Regions from separate parts of the Homo sapiens genome. Here region 1 is linked to region 2. The links come from fine-mapping of genetic effects on gene expression. Tissue or cell type: testis. Region 2 holds a variant in brackets; the other region holds the start of a gene. All regions are shown on one strand. Distances are from middle to middle.

The links. PIP is the estimated chance that this variant, and not a neighbour inherited with it, causes the effect.
Region 1: it holds the start of TMEM232, and the variant in region 2 is fine-mapped to the expression of TMEM232 in testis (GTEx, PIP above 0.99).

The regions. Positions count from the first base shown.
Region 1 is chr5:110,723,900-110,729,053 of GRCh38, forward strand. It overlaps TMEM232 (transmembrane protein 232), which reads right to left and starts at 2,772. Exons shown (of 14, transcript NM_001039763.4): 1 at 2,728-2,772.
Region 2 is chr5:110,430,015-110,435,168 of GRCh38, forward strand. All of the region lies in intron 12 of TMEM232 (transmembrane protein 232), which reads right to left. Among named protein-coding and RNA genes, the nearest start is that of MIR548F3, 81 kb to the right of the region's middle. The variant C/T (reference allele first, on the strand shown) is at 3,000.

The sequences.
Region 1 (5,154 bases), 290 kb after region 2:
GGTGATAGAGCAGTCACCTTGCTATCAAGAGATGACCAGGAAGATGAAAACCACATACAAAGATGATGGGACACAAAGACAGAAGCCTGGAACATTTATGGCATTAGAGATGAACCACAGTCAAGTTGTTGGAGACGAGTTTCTGTTATATTCCATCAAATACAATCCTAGGATATCTCACACCTTCCTGAAAACCCTAGTTCAAACCTATTTCTTCAGTAAGCCTTCTGGGATGTAATAATAATAACTCTTGCATGGGACTTTATTGTTTGCAAAGTACTTTCACATACTTTATATCTTTCGATATTCACATCAGTCCTGTGGCCAGAATACCCTTCTCTTCATATTCTCACCTCTCTGGAGTTGATGCCATCCATCCCTATACTGTAAACCACACTGTAGAACAATGACTCCCAAGCAGCTGCCTCCAATCTTGACCTCTCTTGAGCTCTAGATTTGTTTTCCAACTGAATTCTGGGCACCCAGCTCAAAGACGAGTACTTGAAACATCTAAACTGTGTATAACTTAACCTGTTATTTTCTCATTTCAGGTCCCTAAACACTGCTCTTAATCCAGTATTATTTTAATAAATCTCAGTTAATATAATCACTCAAACTGACAAGCTAGAAATTTCAGAGTTATCCTCAATTCCATGCTCTCTATAACTTCCCAAAACAATCAGGAATCAAATCCTAGATCACGGCCACTGCCATGAGATTAGGTTCTCATCATTTTTCTGGTGGACTACTGTTAAGATCATTTAACTGGCCTTCTGCAGAAAGGCATCCTAAAAGATAAATCAACTATTTTTATTTATTCATTCACCAAATAGTTAAATGACTAGTCTTCTGCAGAAAGGAACTCTAAAAAAGAAATCAATTATCTTTTATTTATTCATTCACCAGATAGGTATAGAGCACCTGCTACATAATAAATATTATAATGTTAAAAATATGGTTTCAACAAAAAAACTTGCCATGTTATAGTAAGAAGCTAGTAATCCTAAAGTCGATATAGATTTAGCAAGTGATTTATTATATTACTGTTGAAAACGCAATGAAAGTAATAGGAATAAAATAATTTACTAAGGTGGTATATTTTTTAAAGAGATTTGTTTTCTTTGGTATTGTAATGAATCAGCAGGAAACATTTTAAAGAAATGAATTCATTTGGTTTTATGGAAATATAAGCAAAAATAAAAAGTGTGATATATAGTTTAGAACATTAATTTCTAAAATACATTCTGTAAAATACTGCTTCTTGGGATGAAACTACCTCGAAAAGCTTTCTGTTGTGAAATGTTTGAGAAACCACTGGATTAGACAAAAATAAGTAGGTTTGCATATACTAAGATTTCTCAGTGTTAATATTCTCATATATACTCTACATCTCTCTGAGTAGCAGTGTGACATGTAGTACTTTAAAATTTATTGACTAAAGAAATCTTTAGAACATCATCTCCTAGAACTACATACAGGACACATTTTGGAAAATGTTAAGCATTTGTGAGCAGACACTTTACCAGGAGCTCTGGATGGACAATGAACTTCAAGACAGGAACATTTATCAAATTTATCATAACAATGAATGATTCTGATAATGAATCAGACGTTCAGCAAGAATATAGCACTACTCATTAAGATCATAAGGGTCCATGCAGAATAGGTCTTAGTGAAATAAAAATCTGCTACCTTCAATCAAGTATGTATGTGGATTACCCAAACCAAGAATGTTTATACTTTAAAGAGAAATGTTTCAGCTCATGAAATGGCTCCAGCAGTCTGCCTGGGTGCTTGGCAGTTCATCTGCAACCTGGCACAGACCCAGATTTCTTTTTTTAGTTTTACTATTAATTCTTCATGTATTTTTTTAAAGTTCCAATAAAAATGAGGTTGAAACTGTATACTTTAAAAGACAATTTCTGAAAAACAGATAATATTAAAATTATATCAAGACTTTGGAAAGGTAACATGCATTAGAGAATATAAGATTTAGACTCTAACCTGAGGAAGCAAATTATTTGACCAACCAAATGATAGAATTTGTTCAGACATACTGTTAAGATGGTAAGGTAAATAAGAGACTCTTACTACAGTCTTATCCCCTCCTAGAAATTTTTCTAATAGACAACTTGGATATTTTTCTCAAGATTAACGGCTTTTAAAAATTGTTTTATTACACATCTCCAATATACCCCCCTCTCTCTTTCACACACACACACACACACACACACACACACAGAGCGCCAAATTTTTGAACCTTCTCTTTTGAAGTCCAAGAGTCTTCATACTAAATAAATAATAAATAAATAAAAATCAAAAAGGTGCAATTTCACCAACCACAGAGGATGTGTGAAGACTGGTCTTCTGAATTCAAGGTTGCCCCAGGATAAGCGAGTCCAGGGGAGATTAAATGAATTTCCCTATTCATAGCAATAAGAAAGTTCCCACCTCCTTTATTCTCCCCAACAAAAAAGCTTCCCCTATCAAACGACCTGGTGGCTTTTCCAGGATGGACTGCTTAGACTCTTAGGAGGGGCCCAGATAGCAGGCCCAGCCTGGGGTTGCGAGTAGTGTTTCTTCTAACAAAGCTATGGCACCCTGAGAAAGGAGGCTCAGTATTCCCCTGTGAGGATCTTTGTGGGTCTTTCAGTTGCCCTAGGATGGTGAATATGACAATAACCTGAGCTCCCAAATCATCTGAAGCAGGACCTCTTAATCACTCACCGCTGCGCTCTGAGCCGCTGGGAACCAAGGCTGGTTGCTAAGGACGCTGTGGGAGTCGCTCTGAGACAGACGTTGCTCTTTTACGGTCTCGTGACCAGGGCTTAGCCAATCAGGACTTATAAGTGAATTTCCACCTGCCCTGTCCCGTCTCCACCACATTTGTGTTCAATTTCTAAAGAATAAATGCAATGTTGTGTGAAAGACCTTTATTCGTTTTTAAAGAACATAGTAATGATTTGTTTCGAATATTGTACATACTTGCATATCCTGCAAGAAGCCACGGCAAGAAGCGGCTTCACAGTGCTTTAATGTCTCCTCAGTGTCTTAATGCTGCTTCCCCAAAACAAACCAGCACGCCTATCATACCAAAAGTAGCTATGTCTTTAAATTAAATTGCCGTTCGTAAGTTCCTTTTACATAGAAAATTTGGAGCAGTCAGTGTCCTCAGCACCCGTCAGTGAGTAAACAAAGCACCTAGAATGTTCTGCTATGTACTAAACACCAGAGGGCGAATTTAAACACAAAAGAACGCCTCTTTTTAAAGGTAGTATGCAATAGAATTATCTAATATAAGTCCTTTAAAAATCCTTGTAGAATTCCTATGTCTACTAACGAGCAACTGTATATATTTTACAAAGGTTCACCAGTGTAAAATACTATATGGAAGAATGGGGAAGGGCATTTATGATTAAATTCATACGTAGGCCGGGCGCAGTGGCTCATGCCTGTTATCCCAGCACTTTGGGAGGCCAAGGTGGGCGGATCACGAGGTCAGGAGTTCGAGACCATCCTGGCTAACATGGTGAAACCCGTCTCTACTAAAAATACAAAAGTTAGCCAGGCGTGGTGGCACCCACCTATAATCCCAGCTACTCAGGAGGCTGAGGCAGGAGAATTGCTTGAACCCAGGAGATGGAGGTTGCAGTGAGCCGAGATCATGCCACTGCACCCCAGCCTGGGAAACAGAGCGAGATTCCATCTAAAGAAAAAAAAAATACTAAAACGTAATATACAGGGATTGTCCTGTGAAATGACCTGCCTTTAAAAATTAGAACTTTGAAAGAAAATTTAACTTGAACTACTTCGATTCGGAATTAAGTTTTTTTGTTTTTTGAGTGCATTTTTATGTTTAAAACAGAAATTACAATATGTGATCTCAGGCTTCTCTGACGTATCACTCCTAGAAGATCAGTAAGTTAAAGGTAATAATGAAAAGTGAAATTGACAAAGACTATAAACTACATATGTGAGAGAACAAATCCTAGAATATCAACAGTGCTTACCATAATCCAGATAAAATAAAAATGAAAAGACTGTGGTATTTAATAATAGCCTGGGGGCTTGCTTGTTTTAATTTCAAGAGATCTAGAAAAGTGTTAAAAGCATAAAAAAATACAAACTGTTAACCAGGTTATTCATAATCAAATGAAGATTGAATTAAAAAGGAATAAAAGGAAGGCCGAATAAAAAATTCTTCTCCATAATATAAGAATCAGTTGAAACTATAGCATGTTTAGAGAAAAAAAGTCACCCCATCGATTCTACAGTGAAGACAACAGAACAAGTTTATATAAGGAAGAATTCACAAATACATATATATATATATTACACATATCTACTTATTCTAAATATATCTACTGATTTTATATATGTATCTACTGATTTTATTTATATATATATCAGTAGAATGAAAGATTACAGAAAAAGCATAAAATTTATATATGATAAATTTGCCATTTTAACTCAGTGGGGAAAAACTGTACAGAGGCTGAGCACAATTTGAAAGAAAATAAATCTGAACTACTATCTCATACCATAGCAACAATAAATCTCAGAGGAATGAAGCTTAAAACAGGAAATAATTTTAAATAATTTTAAGATAATATTGGTATAACCTTAGAGTCACAATAATATTAAGCTAATAGGAGACCCACAATGATTTTAAAAAATGACAAGAATATTTAGAAAATTTATGTAAGAAAAATAAATCTAATAAAGTCATACCTCCCCTTTCTCCCTTTAATTAGTCATCTACATTGAAGTTTTGACAAGACAAATCTAATTTTTTCAAATTATTATATATATACCTATATATATATAATCCTAAAATGGCCATTAATTAGCAATTAGGAAAATAAGCATGTCAAAACCATCCTAACCCCTTAGTATGGCACAATTATGCTTTCAGAAACTATATCATTGCCTACTTGCCCAGTTTTTTTCTGCTTTTTTTTTTTTTACCAGTCTTTTTTATTTTATTTTATTATTATTTTTTGAGATGAAGTCTCGCTTTTGTCCCCCAGGCTGGAGTGCAATGGAGCGATCTCAGCTCATTGCAACCTCCACCTCCTGGGTTCAAGCGATTCTCCTGCCTCAGCCTCCCGAGTACCTGGGATTACAGGCGCCTGCCACCACGCCTGGGTAATT
Region 2 (5,154 bases):
GGAGCCTTGATTTCTTTTAGAAGAGAATGATAGTAGAAACCTCAATCTGGAATATGTGGTGGTATATTGGATGATTCCCCAAAACTTCTGGAGTTAAGAGGGATGATATCAGAAAAAAAAAACTAATTAAATCATTCTATAGCATAAGAAAAATCATCTTATATCAAAATATCATAAGTTCATGTTACTTTTGATTAAATTAACTTTCTTTTTAACTTTCTCTAAGAGCTTATTGCTCAAAGTTTTCTCTCGTTTAATTAGCTTTGTGGTATTATACTAAAGAGGGTCAATCATATTATGTATTGAAGTTGCACCTACCATCTCCAATACTTAGACGTTTCCTTTTTTTTTTTGTTCTCAGAGCCCAAATAGGTTAATATTCAGATTGTCACCTTAATACTATCCCTGAAGCAATAATTACTTGAAAGGAAAATAAATTCCTTCCTCTCTTCAAGGTAAAGTTAAAATATATGCAGTTTCAAAAGAGCTACTATTTCAGATAGAATAACATAAAATCAGCAAACAATAGCAATAGAACTTAACAATACAGACAAATAAATGCCTTTGAGGGTTTCTAAAAATATGTTTTTGTTTTCCTCTAAAATTTCACTTAGTTTTTTTCCCATGGTCACTAGTGTCATAATCATCGATCATGGGAATTTTTATGTTAAATTCTAATTTATTATAAACATTTGAATAAATACAATCTCAGTATTAAATAAAATTTTCAATAACCTTTAGGATTTCTGTTTGTCACTAAAGTGATAGCTTGCAGCAGATCAATGACCTGACAGATAACAAATGCTATGAGAGCCAAAGATTATTTTTAAAAATCTGTTTAAAAGCATTCATGATACATTAAGCAACAGGATTTGAAAGGCCAATGTATCAGAGAGGAAGGACCTGGAGAAGTAAGTAATGAGCTGCAAAATATACTTCTCCTTAGAGCATTTATCCTTTTATTTTATGGATTGAAAAGTGAAAAATCCCGGCAGAGAAATTTTGATCAGAACTTGAGAAGCCAGGAGAGTACTTGGCAATCTTACAGGGTTGACAAAGCAAAAAAGAGTTTAGAGCTGCCGAGGTAGCCAGGACTTGAAGGATCAAGCTCAAGAGAAGTGAGCACCACACACACCACTAAGTTTCCCCCCAAGAATGTTCTAAAGTATTAAACTGAGAAGGCTAAGAAGCCAAGCAAAGAAGTCACCAACAAGCAGAGTGGAATTTTTCAGAAACTTTACAGTTTCTGAAAATTTGGGGCTCAAATCTACAAAACGAGAGAGGCCTTGATGAACACCTCAGGCTCTCCATTGGGACTCCTGAAAATTTACACTCTGGCGTTATGTTTGAATCACATGTAGATTTAACTTAAAAGTTAGATAATCCTGGAGTCAGTTCAGCTACTGGTTAGATGAAAATGCTCTGCCATCAATCAAGATGCATAGCAGAAGAAGGTGAACTGTCTTTCTGCTGTACATAGTATGAACCAGGAGTCTTTGTCATTTTTAATACAAAAAATCCAGAATTCAATAAAAAATGATAAGGCATACTGGGCAAATCTCACACACAGAAGGTTTATATTGGAGTTACAAATATGGACTTTAAAATAACTATGATAAGTATATTTAAATAAATAGCCAGGTGAAGAATTTTGCTAGAAAACTGGAATCTATCTTAAAATTCACATATTACTTATAGAATTGACAAAAAAAGCAGTAAGTGAAATTAAGAAGTTGGTAGGTGTATATAACAGCAGATTAGACATAGCAGAAAAGAAGATTGGTGAATTGGAAGATAGGGAAACAGAAATATCTAGGCTGAAGCAAGGGAAAAAACAGGCAGAATATATAGAAAAGAACAGCAGAGACATATATGAGAATGTTCCTAGCAGCATTGTTTGTATAATATAAAAAGAGAAATGAATCAAATATTTACCAATAGTTCAAGGGATAAATTTTGGTAGCTTTATAAAATGGAAATACTTTAAGTATTTAAAAACTTTAAATACTTGAGCTACAGTAAGTGAAGTCCAGATGCAACCACATAGAATAGTTTGGACACAAAATATTTTTTTGTAGAAGTAGAGAGGTTGACATGCAGATACAAGCAATCCAGAGAACTCTTGTGAGATACTATATAAGGTCACCATCCCCATGGCAAATAGTCAACAGATTATCCAAAGTCAATAAGAAAGAAAAATTTTTAAAGGTAGCGAGCAAAAAGGGTCATATTGCCTGTAAAGAGAAACCCATCAGACTAACAGAACCCTTATTAGCAGAAGCCTTACAAACCAGAAGATATTGGGGGCCCACATTTAGCATTCTGAAAGAAAATAAATGCCAGTAAAGAATTTCAAATCCTGCCAAACCGAGCTTCATAAACGAAGGAGAATGAAGTTTTTCCCAAACATGCAGTTTCTAAGGGAATTCATCACATCTTAACTGGCCCTCCAAAAAATGCTTAATAGAGCTCTAAACATGGGAAGGAAAGAACACTTGCTCCCACAAAAGCACATGCAAGCACACAACCCACGGTCCCTACAAAGCAAGTACATAATCGAGACTACCACACAACTAGCTAACAACACTATGAAAGGAACAAAGCCTAATATTTCAATATTAATCTTGAAGACAAATAGCCTAAATGCTCCACTTACAAGACATAAAGTTGCAAATTGGATTAAAAACAAAACAGACACATTCTTCTGCTGTCTTTAAGAGACAAACCCACCTCACACATAATGATATGCATGGGTTCAAAGTAAAGGGATGAATAAAGACCCACCACACTACTGGAAAACAAAAAGGAGGAAGAGCTACTATTCTTAAATCAGATAAAATTAACTTTAAACCAACAACAGTCAAAAATGACAAAAAAGCATGACATAATGATAAAGGGTTCAATTCAACAAGAAGACTTAACTATCCTAACTATATATGCACTCAATATTGGAGCACCCGGCTTTATAAAACACTTACTTCTAGCCTTAAGAAAATACT[C/T]TGATAGCCACAAAATAATAGTGGTGTACTTAAACACCTCACTGATATAATTAGATAGTTCATCAAGGCAGAAAACTAAGAAATTATAAATTTAAATTTGACACTTGACCAATTGGACCTAATAGACAACTACAGATTACTCCACCCAACAACGACAGAATAGACATGCTTCTGATCTGCATATGGAACATACTCTAAGACTGACCACATGCTCAATCATAAAGCAAGTCTCAATAGATTTTAAGCAAAATTATATCAAGCATCCTTCTTGGACCACAGTGGAATAAAAATATAAGTCAATACCAAGAAGAACTCTCAAAGCCATAGAAATACATTGAAACTAAACAACTTGCTCCTGAAGAACATTTGGGTAAACAATGAAATCAAAGTAGAAATAAAAAGTTCTTTGAAACAAATGAGAATAGAGGTACAACATACCAAAAACTCAGGGATGCATCAAAAACAGGAAAGTTTATATTGCTAAATGCCTACATCAAGAAGATAGAAAAATCTCTAACCACCTAACCTCATACCTATAAGAACTAGAAACATAGGAACAAACTAAACCCAATTCTGTTTAGGATTTATGTTTTTCTGTTTAGGATTTATGTTTTAGGTTTTGAAGGATGTTCCTTTGATGCTTAGTTTGTTGAGAGATTTTTCATGAAGAGATGTTGGATTTTATCAAATGCATTTGCTGAATTTATTGTTCAATGGTTATGATCAAATCGTTTTTAAATTTTAATTCTCTTTATGGATGAATCATATTTATTGACTTCCATATGTTGAACCATCTTAAATCCCAGGAATAAAGCCCACTTGATCATGGTGAATTAACATTTTGATGTGCTGCGGGATTTGGTTTGCTAGTATTCTGCTGAGGATTTTTCTATCTATGTTCATCAGGGATATTAGCCTGTAGTTTTCTTTTTCTGTGATGTCTTTGCCAGATTTTGGTATCAGGATGATACTAGTATTATAGAATGAGTTAAGGAGGTATCTTTCCTCCTTGATTTTTTGGAAAAGTTTAAAAAGAAACTAAAGTCAGAGCAGAAGAAAATAAAATAAATGAAAGCACAAGAAAAGAAATAACTAAAATCAGAGCAGAACTAAATGAAATTGAGACCCCCCCAAAACATGCAAAGAATAAATGAAAAAAAAAAACTTGGTTCTTTGAAAGGATAAATAAGATTATTGATAGACTGCTAACTAGATTAAAAAAGAAAACAGAGAAGATTCAAATAAGCAAAATCAGAAATGACAAAAGGTGACATTGCAACTGATCCCACAGAAACACAAAAATGCTTAGAAACTACTGTGAACATCTCTATGCACAGAAACTAGATCTAGAGGAAATGAATAAATTCCTAGAAAAAACACAATCTCTCAAGATTAAGCCAGGAATAAACATAAATCCTAAACAGACCATTAAAACGTTGAATAAGTAATAATAATAATAAACCTACCAACCAAATAGCCCTGGACCAGATGGATTTACAGCCAAGTTCTACCAGATATACAAAGAAACTGGTACAAATGCCACTGAAACTATTCCAAAAAATCGAGGAGGAAGGACACCTCCCTAACTCATTCTATAATACTACTATCATCCTGATACCAAAATCTGGCAAAGAGAGAAAAAGAAAACTACAGACTAATATCTCTGATGAACATAGATAGAAAAATCCTCAGCAAAATACTAGCAAACCAAATGCGGCAGCACATCAAAATGTTAATTCGCCATGATCAAGTGGGCTTTATTCCTGGGATTCAAGACGGTTCAACATATGCAAGTCAATAAATGATTCATCACATAAAGAGAAATTTAAAAATGATTTGATCATAGCCATTCATCAATAAATTCAGCAAATGCATTTGATAAAATCCAACATCCCTTCATGAAAAATCTCTCAACAAACTAGGCATCAAAGGAACATCCCTCAAAACCCCCAGCCAACAACCTACTGAATGGGCAAAATTGAAAGCATTATCACTAAGAAGTGGAACAAGACAAGAATGTCCACTCTCAGCACTCCGATTCAACTGGAAGTCTTAGCCAGAGCAATCAGGCAAGAGAAAGAAATAAACATCATTTAAATAAGAAAAGAGAAAGTCAAATTATTTCTCTTCACTTATTGATATGACTCTTCATGTA